2 linked regions of the Homo sapiens genome follow. The protein of the gene in region 1 interacts with the protein of each later gene in a pairwise test. Each region holds a gene or a part of one and is shown on either strand. Other genes may lie near its edges.

What was found.
Region 2: the proteins of ZFP2 (region 1) and BCDIN3D interact in binary tests that used the Homo sapiens proteins (3 or more experiments, as listed by UniProt).

Annotation. Positions count from the first base shown.
Region 1 is NC_000005.10:178,897,685-178,906,660, reverse strand, and holds part of ZFP2 (zinc finger protein ZFP2), read right to left. Parts: intron 1-8,976. UniProt on the Homo sapiens protein: Probable transcription factor involved in neuronal differentiation and/or phenotypic maintenance.
Region 2 is NC_000012.12:49,838,718-49,848,338, forward strand, and holds the start of BCDIN3D (RNA 5'-monophosphate methyltransferase), read right to left. Parts: upstream 4,390-9,621; 5' UTR 4,371-4,389; coding exon 4,137-4,370; intron 2,438-4,136; exon of another isoform or gene 299-2,437; coding exon 1-298. UniProt on the Homo sapiens protein: O-methyltransferase that specifically monomethylates 5'-monophosphate of cytoplasmic histidyl tRNA (tRNA(His)), acting as a capping enzyme by protecting tRNA(His) from cleavage by DICER1.

The sequences.
Region 1 (8,976 bases):
TCACTTGAACCCGGGAGGCGGAGGTTGCAGTGAGCCGAGATCGGGCCACTGCACTCCAGCCTAGGCAACAGAGTGAGACTCTGTCTCAAAAAAAAATAAATAAATAAAGACAAAAACTCTAAAATTGATTTAAAATCCAGCTGTATGGTACCTACAAAAGATATACGTAAAACAGAAACCAAAAAGTTTAAAATTTCAAAAGAGGAGGGCAGACACAGGATATAGCAGGCAAATGCAAATGTAAAGAAAGCAGTGAGAATAACGTTATCAGATAAGGGAGAATATATGTGAAAACAAAAATAAGCCTCTTTTTGGTGAAAGAAGGTATCAAATCAGAAATGCAAGATTCCCCTTCCAAAAATCATCCACTTTTTTCAACAAATTACCTTGTTAGCTGAATACAGAAGGCAAAATAAAAGTCCAAATCCAGGTTGCTATGTGCTGGTCTTCCTTGCTTCCCTAAACCCTCACCACCTTAAGTCCTGGCTCTGTGCTCAGCATGCGCAGAGCTTCTATTGTGAAATGCACTGCAGATCCCCGTGCCAGCTGTGGGCTGGTAAAGTGCTGATTTAGGTAACTACAAAAGGCTTCTTAAAAGGTGAACATGGCCAGACATGGTGGCTCACGCCTGTAATACCAGCACTTTGGGAGGCCAAGGCAGGTGGCGGATGGCTTGAGCTCAGGGGTTCGAGACCAGCCTGGGTAACATGACGAAACCTTGTCTCTACAAAAAAGACAAAAATTGGCTGGGCGTGGTAGTGTGCACCTGTGGTCCCAGCTATTCGGGAGGCTGAGGTGGGAACATGGCTTGAGCTCAGGAGGCAGAGGTTGCAGTGGGCTGAGATCACACCACTGTAGTCCAGTCTGGGCAATTCAGCCAGGCCTTGTCTCCAAAAAAAAGAAAAAAGAAAAAAAAAAAGAAAGTGAACATGGAACTTAGTAATATACATTTGTCATCAATTCCTTAAGATGTTTTATTCCTTTCCTCCTTTCCATTTAGTATGAGTCATTTTCCCCCTAGCACTACATTCAGTACAGGATACCTCATAGTGTTTAAGGAGCTTCATGGGTTTATCTTACTCATACAGAGGTTTTCTTAAACCTAAAAACAAAGGCTTTTTGATACAGTTATTGTTTGAAAAAACTGCATATCAAATAGAATAAGGACATTATAAATGATGAAAGCATAATTTATAAGTAAAATATGATAGTGATGAAGTTTTAGGCACTGCAGCAGCAAAGTGTCTTCAGATATGATACTGAGCAATCCACATTTTTTCTTTACAAAATCACAATCATATTTAAACTCCAATTACAACAGCAACAGAAAATGAAACACCTAAGAATACATTTAAGAGAAATATGCAAGATCTTCATGATTGGTCTGTAAAGAGTTAAAGGCCATAATGAAAGATCTGAATAGAATAAAGTATCATTTTTTTACTTAATATGAAGAATAAACATCGTAAAGATGGCAATCTTCCTCAAACTGACTTACACACTTTGAAATTCAAATCAGAACTGCATAATTTTACTTTTTTACTATTACTGTTGGAACTTCATAATAAAATTCGACTATTAAGGATAAATATACGAGAACAGTAACGAAACTTTTGAAACGAAAAATGAGGGAAGAGTTGCTTTACGAAATACCAAAATGGGCCGGGCGCAGTGGCTCACTCCTGTAATCCCAGCACTTTGGGAAGCTGAGGCAGGCAGATCACGAGGTCAGGAGTTCGAGACCAGCCTGCCAGCATGGTGAAACCCCGTCTCTACTAAAAATACAAAAAGTTAGCCAGGCGTGGTGGCACGTGCCTGTAGTCCCAGCTACTGAGGAGGCTGAGGCAAGAGAATGCCTTGAACCCGGCAGGCAGAGGTTGCAGTGAGCCAAAATCATGCCATTGCACTCCAGCCTGGGAGACAGAGCAAGACTCTGTCTCTCAAAAAAAAAAAAAAAAAAAAAAGCAAAATGAATTCTGAGACAACAAATACAATAGTGTGGTACTACAACAGAAATAGAACAATGGAATAGAATCCAGAAAAATAAACATATATATAAATTTTAAAAATAAACTCATATATAAATATATGTAAACTATATTATAATATAAACTCTCATATATATTTCATATATATGTGACAATTTGGCATATTTTAAAGGTTCCATTTCAAGTCCACGGAGAGTGAGCAGATTATTTCAGTAGATAACATCAGCTCCAATGCCATCTCCTGAGAGGGGCCACTCCTCTGCTGAGCTAAAACAGCCCTGAGTGACACTCTACCATGTTCCCCTGCTGCGTCCTCATCACAGCACCTAACACTATCCTCAACCACATTTCCTCTTTATTGTCTGCATCCCCTGTGGAAAATAAGAGCTCAGAGAAGGAGATCTTGCCTCTCTTACTCACTGCAACACTCCCAGTATCCAGAACACGGCACACCACATGGCAGAGAAGCGCTAAATATGTTTAATGAGTGGATGGATGGATGAAATGCTTCACCACATCATGTTAAATGAAGTTAGATCCCTACTTCACATCACAGACAATACATTCCAGATAGCACAAGGATGTAAATTTAAAATTATAAAACTAATAGAAAACACAGAAAAAGATTTATATTATCTTGGGGTACAGAAAACTTTTCTTTTTTTTTTCTTTTTTCTTTTTTGGAGATGGAGTCTCACTCTGTTGCCGGGCTAGAGTGCAGTGGCACAATCTTGGCTCACGGCAACCTTCACCTCCCGGGTTCAACCGATTCTCCTGCCTCAGCCTCCCCAGTAGCTGGGACTACAGGCACGTGCCACCATGCCCAGCTAATTTTTGTATTTTTGTATTTTGTAATTTTGTATTTTTAGTAGAGACGGAGTTTCACCGTATTGGCCAGGATGGTCTCAATCTCTTGACTTCGTGATCCACCCACCTCGGCCTCCCAAAGTGTTGGGATTACAGGCGTGAGCCACCATGCCAGGCTCCTTTTCATAGCATGATCCCAAAGCCAAGTAAAGAGAAAGGAAATTTAACTGCATAAAACTTCAAAACTTTTTTGTAGCAAAATATATTATAAACAAATTTAAAAGAAACATGACAGAATACTGGCAACGTATAGCAAAGGAATACTATCCACTTTATAGGAAAGACCTCTTTTATATGTAAATAACTCAATATAAAAATGGGCAAAGGGTGTAGACAGGTATTTTAAAAGGCTGGAAGAATGTACATCATAGTTGTTTCTGAGGGTTGGAAACTTGGAATTCTCTCTCATTGCCTTTAAATTTTTAAAAAGGGATAGTAGATATGATTAGTCTATATGCCCAATATTTATATTCAAAAAAATATTAAATTTAAAGGCAAATAAAAGTAACACCTAGACAATTCATACTACCATCACTGGCCAATATGGGAAAGATGAAACTACGGAGAAAGATGAAAAAAGGAAAACAGCTCTAATGTTGCATTGATATGTCCCAAGTCTATTACTGTACTTCGTAATTGCATTCCATTTACAGGTTATAAACACATCTAGTTGACAATTACACTTTATTTCTCAACATCTGAGTTACTCATTTCTCATCTACTGTACAGTTCCAAGTGATTCATCAGTAATTCAGAGAAGCAGCAACAAAAGTGACAAAATGCCTGTCATCAGCTGCTATCAAGTGTCTAGACTAATGTCCCTTAAGGCAGACTGGTTAACTAAACTATGATATGCCCACATAATCAAAGAAAGAAGCCCCGATGTACTGATATGGACAGGTCTCCAAGATATATTGTGAAATGCAAAATAGCTAAAAATAGAACAGGTGCAGACTCCTGAGTAAATATTATCTGTTATCAACTGGATTAAAAATTGGGAAAATACATACTTTTATGGGCTTTTGTAGTCATCTCTGGAAAGCTACATAAGAAATGAGAATCATTACCTTTTTATGAGAAGAGATAATAGGGAGCTTGGAGACAAGAGTAGGAAGAAGATTTATTTTAAGTGAATGCTTATTTTTGAATTCTGAACACTGACTGTATCAGCCATTCAAATTTTAATTAATCACAATCTGAATCAAATTATCAGCAAACATCAAACAAACCCACATTGAGGATCATTCTATGAAATAATTGGCCTGTACTCTTCAAAAGTATCCAAGTCATTGAAGATCAATAATGAACTTTTCTAGATAAAAGGAGACCAAGGAGATACGACAGCTAAATACAATGTGTGATGTGGATTGGATTCTGCACCAGATAAAGGACAGTTGTAGGACAGGTGGCAAAATCCAAGTAAGGTTTGTAGTTTGGCTAATAGTATTGTATCGATGTAAGTTTTCCTTATTTTGATAACTGTATTTTTGCTAGGTATGATAATAGAAAGCACACACGGACACTTAGAGTGAAATGGGCATGTCTGTAATTTATTCTCAAATGGTTCAGAAATATATATACACAAACATGTGTGTGTATACAGGAAGAGAAAAATGGCAAAATGTTAATTTAGATGAAGACTATCCAGAAATTGTTTTATTTTTGCAGCATTTGTTGTTGTCTCAGTCTGTCTCCCAGGCTGGAGTGCAGTGGAGTGATCTCACGTCACTGCAACTTCCGCCTCCTGGGTTCCAACGATTCTCCCACCTCAGCCTCCTGAGTAGCTGGGATTACAGGTGTGTGCCACCACGCCCGGTTCATTTTTTGTATTTTTAGTAGAGACGGGGTTTCACCATGTTGGCCAGGCTGGTCTCGAACTCCTGACCTCAAGTGATCCACCTGCCGTGGCCTCCCAAAGTGCTGGGATTACAGGCATGAGCCACCGTGCCCGGCCTTGCAGCAGTTTTTAAAGTCTGAAATTATTTCATAATAAAAGTTAAAAAAAAAACAAACCAAAAAACCACAAGATGCATTTTCCACCCTTGAAAATAACTAAAATTTAAAAAGCTTATAATACCTAGTGTTATGAACTGTGTCCCCCAAAAAAGGTATGTTGAAGTCCCAGCTTCTAGTACCTTGCAATAGGACCTCATCTGAAAACAGGTTGTCTCAAATATGACTGGTATCCTTATAAGAAAAACGGCTATTTGAAGACATGAACACATAAGGATAACATCAGATGACAAAGGAGGTAAGGATTAGAGCGATGCAGCCATGAACCAAGGAACACCAAAGAGTGCCAGCAAACCACCAGAAGCTAGAAGCTAGGAAGAGTAAAGGAAGGATTCCCCCACCAGTTTCAGAGAGCAAGGCCCTGCAAATGCCTTCATTTCAGACTTCTGGCCTCCAAAACTGTGAGACAATAAATTTCTATTGTTTCGAGCCACTCAATTTGTGGCACTTTATTACAGCAGCTCTTGGAAATGGATACACCAAGTATGGAAGAGCATGTAGAGCGACTGGAATTCTCAAATACTGCAGGAGGGAATGTACAATGGTACATATACTTTGGAAAACAGTTTAGCTGTTTGTTACAAAGTCAAATGTACACTTGACCTAGGTATTTACCCAAGAGAAATTAAAGTATATATCCACAAAAAGACTCATACATGAATGTACAGAGCAGTTTTATTCATAATAGCTAAAAACAGGAAACAACTTGAAATGTCTGTCACAAGTGAATGAACAAAAGGTGGTATATTCAACTGTGTACTACTTAAGACAAAAAGGAACAAACTATTACTACACACAATATCATGTAAAGACCTGAAAAACATTACGTTGAGCAAAAAAAGCCAGGCATAATATATACTGTTTGATTTCATTGACATGAAGTTCTACAAAGGGCAATACTGTAGGGACAGAAATCAAACCAGTGACTTCCTGGGGTGGGGGACGTGGAGTAGAAGTGGCACGAGGACACTGTCTGGCTGGGGTGGGGGACGTGGAGTAGAAGTGGCACGAGGACACTGTCTGGCTGGGATGGGGGACGTGGAGTAGAAGTGGCACGAGGACACTGTCTGGCTGGGGTGGGGGACGTGGAGTAGAAGTGGCACGAGGACACTGTCTGGCTGGGGTGGGGGACGTGGGGTAGAAGTGGCACGAGGACACTGTCTGGCTGGGGTGGGGGACGTGGAGTAGAAGTGGCACGAGGACACTGTCTGGCTGGGGAGGGGGACGTGGAGTAGAAGTGGCACGAGGACACTGGCTGGCTGGGGTGGGGGACGTGGAGTAGAAGTGGCACGAGGACACTGTCTGGCTGGGGAGGGGGACGTGGAGTAGAAGTGGCACGAGGACACTGGCTGGCTGGGGTGGGGGACATGGAGTAGAAGTGGCACGAGGACACTGGCTGGCTGGGGTGGGGGACGTGGAGTAGAAGTAGCACGAGGACACTGTCTGGCTGGGGAGGGGGACGTGGAGTAGAAGTGGCACGAGGACACTGGCTGGCTGGGGTGATGCAAAAGTTCTGTACCTTGACTGAGGTGGTGGCTATGTTGGTGCATAAATTTGTCAAAACTCAATGAATTCTATGCTTAAATTGGGTTATTTTATTAAACTGTGCCTCAGAAAAAGCTGATTTAAAAATTAACACTATTTTGGCTACATAAATTAAAATGTAGGTTACTGACAACCAAACCACAACAGTCATCAACCAAAATCTTCTTAATGCTTCCCCTTTCAACATTTCCCTCTTCCAGAAACTCCCTTTGTCCAATACCCCCATTTTAAAAGTTATTTTGCCTTTTATAACTGAGTTTGATAATACTGAAGAAAGCAGTACAAATGGAAATCACAACAGTTTATACTTGCCTCCACGAAGCTTTCTTTAAACTGGTCTCTAATAAATAAACAAGTGATCCTAATAAATCAACGACCCCTAATACATACTTTTATGAGAAGAGAAAATGCCGTTAAGTCTTCAGTATTCCAGACAACAAGGCTAAGTAAGTTTAACCTTAAAAAAAAAAAAGAAGTTAGGGCCAAGTCTTCTGATGCCTTATTTTCTTTTTCAGAGAAGCCTGGAATCCTCACCTACTATCCCAGCTCCATGCTTCCCTCCATCTCACGGACACTACTTTTTCCTAGGAAAGTTTTGATTGTGCGAACTCCCTTATCAAAATTCCTCAGACTGACCTCCACCCCCATGGCCACCACCCTGCCAAACACACAAACTCCTCCTTCCCGACACTTGGTCCTAAAATTTTTATCCGATTTCTTCTACTCCAGCAGAGCATTTCTCACTATCAGTCACTGCCCCCTTCAGTCCACCTCTAAAAGTCTATACACAGGCTCTTGGCTGGGATGATACTAAGAATGCCTACAACTTACTGAATAACTTCAACATTCCAGGAGCCATGCCAGGCATTTTTTACTTTTATTATTTTATTTGAACTTTCAACAGACCTATGAAGTAGCTATTACTATTAAATGAAATCAGCCAGGTGACGTTCTTCATGTCACCTATATGGCAGACAGGTAATGCTGTAATTCCTATTATGACCATGAGAAAATAATGTTTCAGGAAAGCCAAGCCTCTTGCCAAGACAATGTAGCTATTAAATGGTAGAGCTGGGATTTAAACTCTGGACACACTGACTCCCTTATAACAAATCCTCTCCAGTTATCCCTTCCCAACCCCTGAGATGGGCAAACACTACCTACTTCTCCTGGCCACCACCCTGATCCTCCCCTTCACTCCAGCTTGGAATACGGATAAACTGGGTCCCTAACCACACTTGTTCTTATTACCATATTCAGGTGCAATTATGACTGTATACCATGCAGATGTGCCCTCTTTTATGATCCCTGAGAGCCCATAAGCCCTATAAGCACCAGCACCAGCTTGCATATAACTTTTTTCCCTTTCTGACCCTTGAACAGCACCAAGAACACAGCAGGCCAGGGTATCCAGCTGAGTAAGTGGCAGCTAGGAACAGAGGTCAGGAACACAGAGGGGGCTTTGTGAAAAATATCCAGCATTCTGCTATTTCAATAACCCTGTCCTGAGCAGTGAGGCCCACATGCAGTACAGGAGGAAGGGGGAGGTTTGAGAGGGAAAAATGAGCTCACCCGAGCTCCCAATGGCAGAGGCCAAGCAGCCATTGCCTTCTCCTTCCTTCCTGTGGGGTTCTTCCTTGGGGAGGGACAGAAGCCAAAGGAGGCAGAGCTGAGGGAAGGGAAAGAAGCCATGAGAAACAAGACTCCTGCAACAGCAACAATGAAAATACCTATAAATAAACTAAATAAGACCTGGATAGTAGCTACATAAAGAAAATGATTTTCATGTATTAAGTTCACTTCATTATGCCTATTTAGCTATACAAAGACGAAAGACAGAGAGACATGACATATTCTTGCACAATATGTCTCAATATACCAGGATGTCATTTCTTTAATTCATAAACTTAACACATTCCCAGCCAAGTTATGCCTAAGTAACAATATTTTACAGTTAATATGGGCCATGCGCGGTGGCTCACGCCTGTAATCCCAGCACTTTGGGAGGCCAAGGTGGGTGGACCACTTGAGGCCAGGAGTTCGAGACCAGCCTGGCCAAAATGGCAAAATCCTGTCTCTACCAAAAATACAAAAATTAGAGAGTGGTGGTGGGCGCCTGTAATCCCAGCCACTCAGGAGTCTGAGGCAGGAGAATCACTTGAACCGGGGAGGTAGAGGTTGCAGTGTCGAGATCACACCACTGCACTCTAGCCTCGGTGACAGAGCAAGACTCCGTCTCAATAAAAAAAAAGAAGTTCACTAATTATGGAAAAAATATTTAAGTTGTGTGTTACAACAACTAAGACTTTTTTAAAAAAGAATACTGATGAGAGACAACTTGCCCACCAGTATTCATAAAGCTACAAGAATTGGAACACAATATTACTGACTTATTTACCAGATACATTGTTGACCACCTACTGTATACTAGGCACCATTGCATGGGGTAGGGGTGGATACAGCTGTAAATAAAACAGATAAACTCTCCGCAATCATGGATGTTATAGCCGAACAGGGAAAAGCATCAATGGAACAAATTAAAATTCTACCAACCTAAATGGTT
Region 2 (9,621 bases), on another chromosome or scaffold:
CATGGTCTCCATGATTCAGATGAATCCACATGGTTATTGACATGCAGAAGCCAATGTCAAAAACTGAACGTCCAAATTGGCTTAAGAAAGAGCTCAAGAGAACCTTCCGGGTCCTTTGATTCATGAAGTCCAGGGTGATAAAAGTCAAGGCATCAGGAAAAGGACATTCTTTTTCGGCTCGCTTCACCAGGACTGGATCTATGTCGCAGCAGAGGAGACGGAATTCTCTTGAGGCATCTGAGCAGGTTTCCCCGTCAGGTAGGGAGAGGAAGTGTTTGTATAGAGCCACACTCAGATCCTAGAGGAATCCAAAACAGCTTTGTCACTGCAGTTCTCAATCAGTGAATGGAAGAGAAATCTGTATCATTCTCCCACTGAGAATGCCACTTACCTCTGGCTGTATAGGATGTGAGGTTCCTAAACCATAACCTAAAGAGGTTGTGCAAAAATTTTCTACAGAGTAGGCTCTCAGTGCCCTCCAGGGGTCACATGCTGTAATGCATCATCCCCATATTTTCCTGACACTGATGATAGATTGGGTTGTATAGCTGAAAGTTACAGCCAAATGGATGCAGCAAAGGAACCTACAGCAGTATTTCCCAGCTTAAGTAATATGCTGATAAACTCACTCTTTTTCTGGGTATCTCAAGACCCCAGGGCGGAAGAAAGGGGTCCAGAGGCATAACCAGTGTCTCTTACCAGGAAAGTGAGGAATACAGCAAGCACAATCTTACAAAAACCTGCTTCTCAGACCCGCGGTGGGGGAAGTCTGGATTCCAAAGTCCTCATTCAGCCTTCACTAAAGCTTCAATTTTACTGTCTTAGGATTCACCACCTCCTTCTGAGACATTCTGCTTCTATAACCATCATTGCTAAAAGTCACTGCTAACAACCTTCTAGACAAGTCCAATGATTTGTGATTTTTACCACATTAGCACCTTTTTTACTCTTAAGTCACCATCTCCTTTCTCTAACTTTGAATTCTTTTTTTTTTTGAGACAAAGTCTGGTTCTGTCGGCCAGGCTGGAGTGCAATGGCGTGATCTCAGCAACCTCTGCCTCCCAGGTTCAAGCGATTCTCCTGCCTCAGCCTCCTAAGTAGCTGGGATTACAGGCATGCATCACCACACTCAGCTAATTTTTGTATTTTTATTAGAGACAGGGTTTCACCATGTTGGCCAGGCTGGTCTTTAACTGACCTCAAGTGATCCACCTGCCTCGGCCTCCCAAAGTGCTGGGACTATAGGAATGAGCCACTGCACCTGGCCTCTTTGATTTCTATAACCATTATAACTAACTCAAATTTGTGTTTTTCCACATAGTATTTTCAAGGCATTTTTCTGTTTACTACTTTGTTTGCTTGGTGTAACAAGCATGTGAGGAAAATATTTATTTATGCCTTTTCTGCAGGTGAAGAAAATGCACAATGGAAACCACCCAGATGTCCAGTGATAGTGGCATGGACAAATAAATGTGGTATAATCATGAAGATAGAATACTAAATAGCAGTTAAAAAATGAAGGCACCCAGCTTGGTGCACAACATGGATGATTCTCACAAATACATAATGTTGAGAAAAAAAGCAAGCCATAACAGAAAATATATGAAAAGCATCCATTTACATGAAGCTCAAAAATGGGTGAAATTAAAGTACATCATTCAGGGAAGAAAAACAGTACACTATAAAGAAAAGCAAGGAAACAACAGAAGGCTAGTTGTTACCTCTGGGTAGAGATAGAGGTTTATGAACAGGAAAAGGCATATAGGGGAAGTTGTGGGGTGCTGAAAATGTTTATTATTTATTTATTTATTTATTTTTGAGACAGGATCTTACTCTGTTTCCCAGGCTGGAGTACAGTGGTGTGATCACTGCAACCTTGACTTCCCAGGCTCCAGAGATCCTCCTACTTCAGCCTTATGAGTAGCTGGAACCACAGGTGCACACCACCATGCCCAGCTAATTTTTGTATTTTTGGTAGGGATGAGATTTTGCCATGTTGCCCAGGCTGATCTCAAACTCCCGAGCTCAAGCAATCCACCAGCGTCAGTCTCTGAAAATGCTGGGATTACAGCGTCAGCCACTGCACCCAGCAGTTTTTTGGGTTTTTTGTTGTTGTTTTATTTGAGACAGGGTCTCACTTCGTCACCCAGGCTGGGGTATGTGGCACAATCAAGGCTCACTGCAGCCTCGACCTCCTGGGTTCAAGCGATCCTCCTCCCTCAGCTCTCTAAGTAGCTGGGACTACAGATGCCCACCACCACACCTGGCTAATTTTTTTTAGAGATGGGGTTTTGCCATGTTGCCCAGGCTGGGAAAGGAGTTTTTAAAATTGAAAAAAAAAAGCACCCATAAATTATGGTACATCTATCCAATGAAACATTAGGAAGCTGCTAAAAAAAGAATGTGGTGATATAAATAATCTCAGAATTAAAAGCTACTAATAGTGTGTTACCATTTGTAAAACTAAAAGGGGGGTACTTATATGTACGTAAATGCTGGTATACACACAAGACTGATACCTAAGAAATTATAAACAGTAGTGCCACTGTGTGGGGGAAAAGGAGGATTTAGGGTTGGGAGTAGAGACTTACTTTTTAGTATATACCCCTTTGTAGTTTGAATTTTTTTGTTTTATCAAGCGCAAGCATTTTTTTTCCCTTTCCTGACTACAAAGATCCACAAGAAAAAGCATTTTTTAAAAACTGCAAAACAGAAAGCTCCATAAACGTACAGCCAGGTTTGGGAACCACTACCCTAGTTAGCTGCCAACTATGTCTTTACCTCTCATGTGTATACTACTCTCAACTTTAAAATCTCTGGTGGTTTCCTAATGCCTTTCGTGAAATCCCAAGCCTTAACCTCAGTCTCTCTTTTCCATTGTTTTTACCCTCTGACTTCCCGTATCATCACAGCGGAGAAATTTTGCAGGGGACACAGGACATCAACCCATCTCCTCATTCCAGTCTTTGAGACTGTATCCAAATGTCCCCTTCCTACTATCATCTGAGTCCCACAAGGTCTGAAGTCGTCCCCCAAAGTCTCTTCTGTAAAAGGACAGCAACGTAACAGAATTGTCCCCCGCCCTCCAGATGCTGGACTGGAGTGATGGAGGGAGCGCAGAGAGGGTACTAACTTTTGAAGCATTTGCCGTGGTAAGTTCAGACTGCCTGCTAGTGTAGAATATCCCAGTGGCTACAAATAGGTGTGGGAGAGACATTTCCTTATTTTGCATGTGGTTTGATTATAATCATATGCCTAAGAATAGTTTGCAGCAAGAAGAGTGGCAGTGCCGCCCTTCTCCATTCCCTTGGGCAAAATGCTTTATTTGCTTCTCGATCCTCTCCACTGTACTCTGTCAACTCACTGTTTTGTTTTGTTTTTGAGACGGAGTCTCGCTCTGTCGCCCAGGCTGGAGTGCAGTGGCACTAGCTCGGCTCACTGCAAGCTCCGCCTCCCGGGTTCACGCCATTCTCCTGCCTCAGCCTCCGGAGTAGCTGGACTACAGGCGCCCGCCACCACGACCGGCTAATTTTTTGTATTTTTAGTAGAGACGGGGTTTCACCGTGTTAGCCAGGATGGTCTCGATCTCGTGACCTTGTGATCCACCCGCCTCGGCCTCCGAAAGTGCTGGGATTACAGGCGTGAGCCAGCGCGCCCGGCCTACTCACTTTTTTTGAAATAAACATGCAGGTCCCAGGGTCTGTCCTGCACTGTATAGCACACATGAGTCTCAATATCAGGCATGATTCTGTCACCCTTGGCTCTTCTCTCCCAGTAAACCAAACCTAACCCCATGTTCCCAAACGTGTGTCTCTGGAAGCCCCCTCTCCCCAGCCAAAGCGCCAGGCACGCTGGACAGAGGCCACCCTAGATACAAGGACCGTTCCCACCTGGGGTCTGGCCCTGAAAGAAAAGTGGGAACGTAGTCGACAAGGACTCCTCTCCAAGAGAGATTCCTAAGACAGATGGTGGAACCCTGGCGGGCAGGCAGCAGCGGCACTGGCTCAGTCAAAGCCACGCTTTATACTCGTTTTGGGAAAGTTTCGATGGGTGTTAGCCCAGGCCAGAACCACAGTGGATGTGTAGGCAGCCAACCACTTGGCTCCGGATGCTCCAATCCCTCCCCTGTCACTCACCCCGGAGTTACACCCCACGTCGAGCCCCAGAATCGGCCCGTTCTCGGGACTCTCAGGAAAGAGCTGTCGAAGCAGCTCCGGGGGCAGGAGGCGGAGCCGTTGCTCCGGAGGGTGGAAGCGAGAATAATGAGGAAAATTTCCGAACGGGGCGGCGCCAGGTGCCAGAACTCGCGATTCCTCTTCCGCTGCGGTCTCCTTAACACTCCCTCCATCCAGTTCCGTGGGCACCGCCATTAGCCTCAACACAGCCTCTGGGCCGTGGCGGAACCGGAAGCCGGGAACCTGCTGTCGGCGTGGGCGGTGGCGGTGCCAGCGCGCGTGCGTCGAACGGCTAGGGCGGGTGGCTAGAATTCTGCGGTGAATCAGAAAAGCTGTCCTGATTTCCTCTCGCTGTATACCTGGAGCCGGCGAGCGCCTGGGGCTTGCCTTGTATTATTGAACCCTCATCACAACACTGGGAGGGGATTAGCAATATCATCCACGTTTTACAGGGATGAAACAAACTCTGAGGGCTAAGTGTCTTGGCCAAGCTGACATAGTTTGAAACTTGGGCTACTTGACCCAGAACAAGTATACTAGTTTGTTGGGATCTTGGAAATCAATTTTAGTCCAATTTCCTTTCTTTATAAATGCAAAAAGTGAGACCGAGAGAACTTACTTGTCTGGGGTCATACATTGAATCTGTGACTCAAAAACTTCCACCCGGTTCAGGAAAGGGTAGCCAGGAGGTGCAGGTCACTTGCGAAGCCAGCCGACTCAGCCCTGTCCCCCAGGGGCAACTGTAGACCATGAGCTCCTTGAGAGGCAAGGACCGTGCCTTAAGAGCCAGCACTTAAAGAGTGCTTACCAGGCACCAGACACCCTTGTAAGCTCCTTAGTCAATCCTCTCACCCCGTGAGAAAATGACCGTATTATTATTCTTTTTATATAGATGAGGACACTGGAGTAAAACAAAGTAACTTGTCCAAGATCCCACAGTTAGAAATGATGGTACTAGGATTCGAACCCAGGGAGTTTGGATCCAGAGGATGTGCTTGCAACGGTGTGTTATTCTCAGCCTTGAGTCTCCTATACTTAACATGGGCCTGGCACAAAGATGCTCAACAAATGTTGTTGAATGAAAACTCAATAGAGAATACAATAAGGCCAGATCTGTTTGGGGAAACTTTAAATGGAAGGGAGAAAGGATGCCAACTGAAGCAGACATAGTGGAATGGAGTTGGGCAAGATGTGACTCAGAGATTGGAAATAACAGAGCTGATAAGGAGAGGAACTGAAGGGTCAACCTAGGTAGCAGGTTCCAGTCAAAAGCCAGGATGGCCCAGAATATCCGTCAGGGTCAACCAAGCATCAGCAGAGTTGTGCAGGACCCCCAACCCCACCCCTGCACCTGGCCCACCCATCTTAAAGGGGTATCCTGCTCCATGAGGCTGGCAGTTCGGTAAACTTCTTATAAGGCACTGGAGCATGACTCCTGCAAACAGTACCATCAGGAGTTAAAATAAGCGCTGTTTTCCTCTCAGTTTTTACTTTATATTTTCTTTTTCTTTTCTCCTTTTTTTGAGATAGAGTCTCACACTATTGCCTGGGCTGGAGTGCAATGACATGATCTCGGCTCACTGCAACCTTTGCCTCCCAGGTTCAAGTGATTCTCCTGCCTCAGCCTCCCAAGTAGCTGGAATTACAGGCACCCGCCACCATTCCTGGCTAAGTTTTTGTATTTTTTAGTAGAGACGGGGTTTCACTATGTTGGCCAGGCTGGTCTCGAACTCCTGACCTCGTGATCTGCCCACCTCGGCCTCCCAAAGTGTTGGGATTACAGGCGAGAGCCACCACGCCCAGCCTTTATATTTTCATCTCTATCTGGCCTGCTGTTTCTCTAGTTTCACTTATTTGAGGACACAAGTTAATAAAAGTCACTCTGGAATTTAGTAAACCACAGTATTCTGCACAATTACAGAAAAGGAGAAAAAGCTGCACCGTTTTGACAAATTTTGGTGAGCTGAGCTGAACTTACCTCTTTTTGTCACTAGATGAAGCTAGCACAAATAATTAACAATTTTCAAGGAGCTGGAATCACCTTGCTTCCAGGACAGTGAATGGCAAGAACTCCTGACCCTGGGGTTCCTCCAGAAGCAAAGATAGGCCCTCGTAACATTACTGGTAATCTAAAATGCCTGACAGGTGACCTCATAAAGAGGTGTTTTAATTTGATCCACTCTGGTAACTTTTCTAACCTATGACCACTTTTCAGAGCCTGAACAGCACAGGTGTCTTGACAATACTTGACAATACCAGCCCCAGCACCTTAAATAGCTGTAGCAGCACCTAAGAGCTCGCTCTGCACTTTGGTCAGCCAGGTTTTATGGAGTGAGATGCATATATAATTTCAAGGGAAAGGGGAAGAAGGGGCGCCCTCTTTAAGGAAAAAACTCCCACCAACTTACAAATATAAAGACAGGTATAAAAGTGAATATTTATTTATAATGAGAAATCACAACAAATTACAAATTTTGAAAAGCTGACTACTAAAAGCATCACAACAAATTTTCTATAGGCTTGGTGTGGTGGCTCACACCTGTAATCCCAGCACTTTGGGAGGCCGAGGCGGGCGGATCACGAGGTCAGGAGATCGAGACCATCCTGGCTAACACGGTGAAACCCCTCTCTACTAAAAATACAAAAAATTAGCCGGGCGAGGTGGCGGTCGCCTGTAGTCCCAGCTACTCGGGAGGCTGAGGCAAGAGAATGGCGTGAACCCCAGGGGGCGGAGCCTGCAGTGAGCCGAGATCGTGCCACTGCACTCTAGCCTGGGCGACAGCAAGACTCCGTCTCAAAAAAAAAAAAAAAATTCTATAATAGTTTGATTGATTAAATGCTAGTCACACTTGAATATTACTTTTTTTCTTACATTTTTGGCTGCATACTCTTTGATTGCTTCTTCACATGACAATCACTTGATAATATCATTTTAGAGAGAGACCAGGAAGGTAATTCAGTCTTTTCTTAGCCTGGTGGATCAAATTTGTCTTTTATTATTTGTGGCAGTTATAAAAGTTTCTTTCAAGTTCACAAGTTGTTATTGGCAATGTCATGTAAATTTTTTGGTTTGTTATCAAATTGGGGGAGAACTTTGATTAAATTTCTTTCATTTATTAGCTGGAAGATTTCAGAGCATTTCAAATTTTCTTGTGCAAGAAATAATCTTAGATCTACTCTTCAAATGGACTGTATTCATTAGCCAATTTGTCGTTGAAAACCTTATTATGAATGATGCATTATAAAATTTTTATCATCTGCATTGATAGCAGTAATTTGTGTCAAGTCAGCAAAGGAATTTAAACATAGGGATTCTGATAAATTGTGTATTGTACAATTCCCATCAAGAAATAAAAGAATGCATGGTGCATTTATAATTATATATGCTGTGCTATTGAGTTACTGTGTTATTGCCGACAGGACAAAACTTGTTTTGACTGGTGTTTAATAAGAGACAGAATCTTCTGCTTATGACTGGAATAATTTTCTTCAGACTAGCTTCTGACTTCATATATTTTCAAACTTTTAGGCCCACATAACTTCGGGTGCCAGGTGCTATTGGACACATTTATATCCTGGTTTGATCTAAGCCCTTTTTTTTTTTTTTTTTTTTTTTTTTTCTGAGACAGTCTTGCTCTGTCGCCCAGGCTAGAGTGCAGTGGCGCGATCTCGGCTTACTGCCAGCTCCGCCTCCCGGGTTCACGCCATTCTCCTGCCTCAGCCTCCCGAGTAGCTGGGACTACAGGCGCCCGCCACCACGCCCGGCTAATTTTTTGTATTTTTAGTAGAGACGGGGTTTCACTGTGTTAGCCAGGACGGTCTCGATCTCCTGACCTCATGATCTGCCCGCCTCCGCCTCCCAAAGTGCTGGGATTACAGGCGTGAGCCACCGCGCCCAGCCGCTCTTCTACCTACAGGTCACAATAGCAGGTAAGTCAGCTTGCTGGATGAATAAGAGTACTTCTGGAAGGTATTCCTGTGTCTGGGTTGCAGGTGGTAGCTATGCATGGAAGTGTCGGTATGCCATATGAATAGATACCAAATGGAGTCTATTCCCAACTCAACTTCCCTGTAGCTTTTATTTCCCAAAAATGCCTGTGGCCACTTCAGTGCCATCTAACACAAGGGAAAATGTGAAGGAGGGGAAGTCAGAGCAGAAATAGACAGCAGCCTTAACCAACTGCAGTTAAAATATCTCACTTTTTCCAATTTTACAAAAACAAATGACCTGGTAAACACATTGCAAGGGCCTTGGAAAGGTCCTACATGGGAGTGAGGACCTCGAAGCCTGAGGTTTATTAGCTTCATGGTAAATCTATCTCTGCCCTGCACAGAACGTGTACCCAAGCACAGTTAAAAAGAAGAGGTAGACCTATAATTGGAAATATCCAATTTAGCAATGACTTGCATGTATCATGGCTTCCACTTCCTCCCACAGGAAGCTTGTACAGCTGACATCCTGGCCCATGGTGCAGCCCATCCTACCCTCCTGTCCCTCTCTGATCACACCTCAGAGCCTTTGCTCAGCTGCTGCTTGCCTATCTCACTCACTGCTTCCAAGGTAGAGCTTAGGGGGCCTCAGAACTGAGGATGAAGCAGGAACCTATGTATATGTTTAAAAATTGAATCTGGCCAGGTGCAGTAGCTCACACCTGTAATCCTAGCACTTTGGGAGGCCAAGGCAGGTGGATGATGTGAGGTCAGGAGTTTGAGACCAGCCTGACCAACATGGTGAAACCCCATTTCTACTAAAAATACAGAATTAGCTGGTCATGGTGGCACATCACTGTAATCCCAGCTATTCGGGAGGCTAAGGCAGGAGAATCACTTGAACCCAGGAGGCCGAAGTTGCAGTGAGCCAAAATTGCACCATTGCACTCCAGCCTGGGCAACAAGAGTGAAACTCCATCTCAAAAAATATCTATCTATCTATCTATCTATATATATGTTTTCACAGAAACAATGCTCCAACAAGGAACTTGTACCTGAACTTTTGAAACACAACCCATGTATAAATTGGGAATTTAGTCTTTATTATAGTCGAGAAATTCTACATTTAGTCCTTGTAGAGTTTTAAACCATTTGGAAAGAATAACCATAGGATTTATAAATGCAGTGTTATAGCTCATGGCAACCAAGAGTGCCCCTATTCTAAATTCCTCGTTTTCTTTTTTCTTTTTCAATATCCCAGGTCCTGCTTTGACCTCATTTTCAGATGAAGAAACTGAGACCCAGGAGGTAAAAAAAATTTCTCCAAAGATAGGGCTGAATTATTCAGGGTAGGCTAAGTGCTATAACAAGCAATCCCCAAATCTCGGTGACTTACTCATCCAGTATCACGGTTCAATGTGGGTCACTGGGAGAGCGGGAGAGGGCACTCTGTTTCTCAAAGACTTCATGGGTGCATCTAGAAGCTCTGCCTTTTCTAGGGGACTGAGTCCTCCAG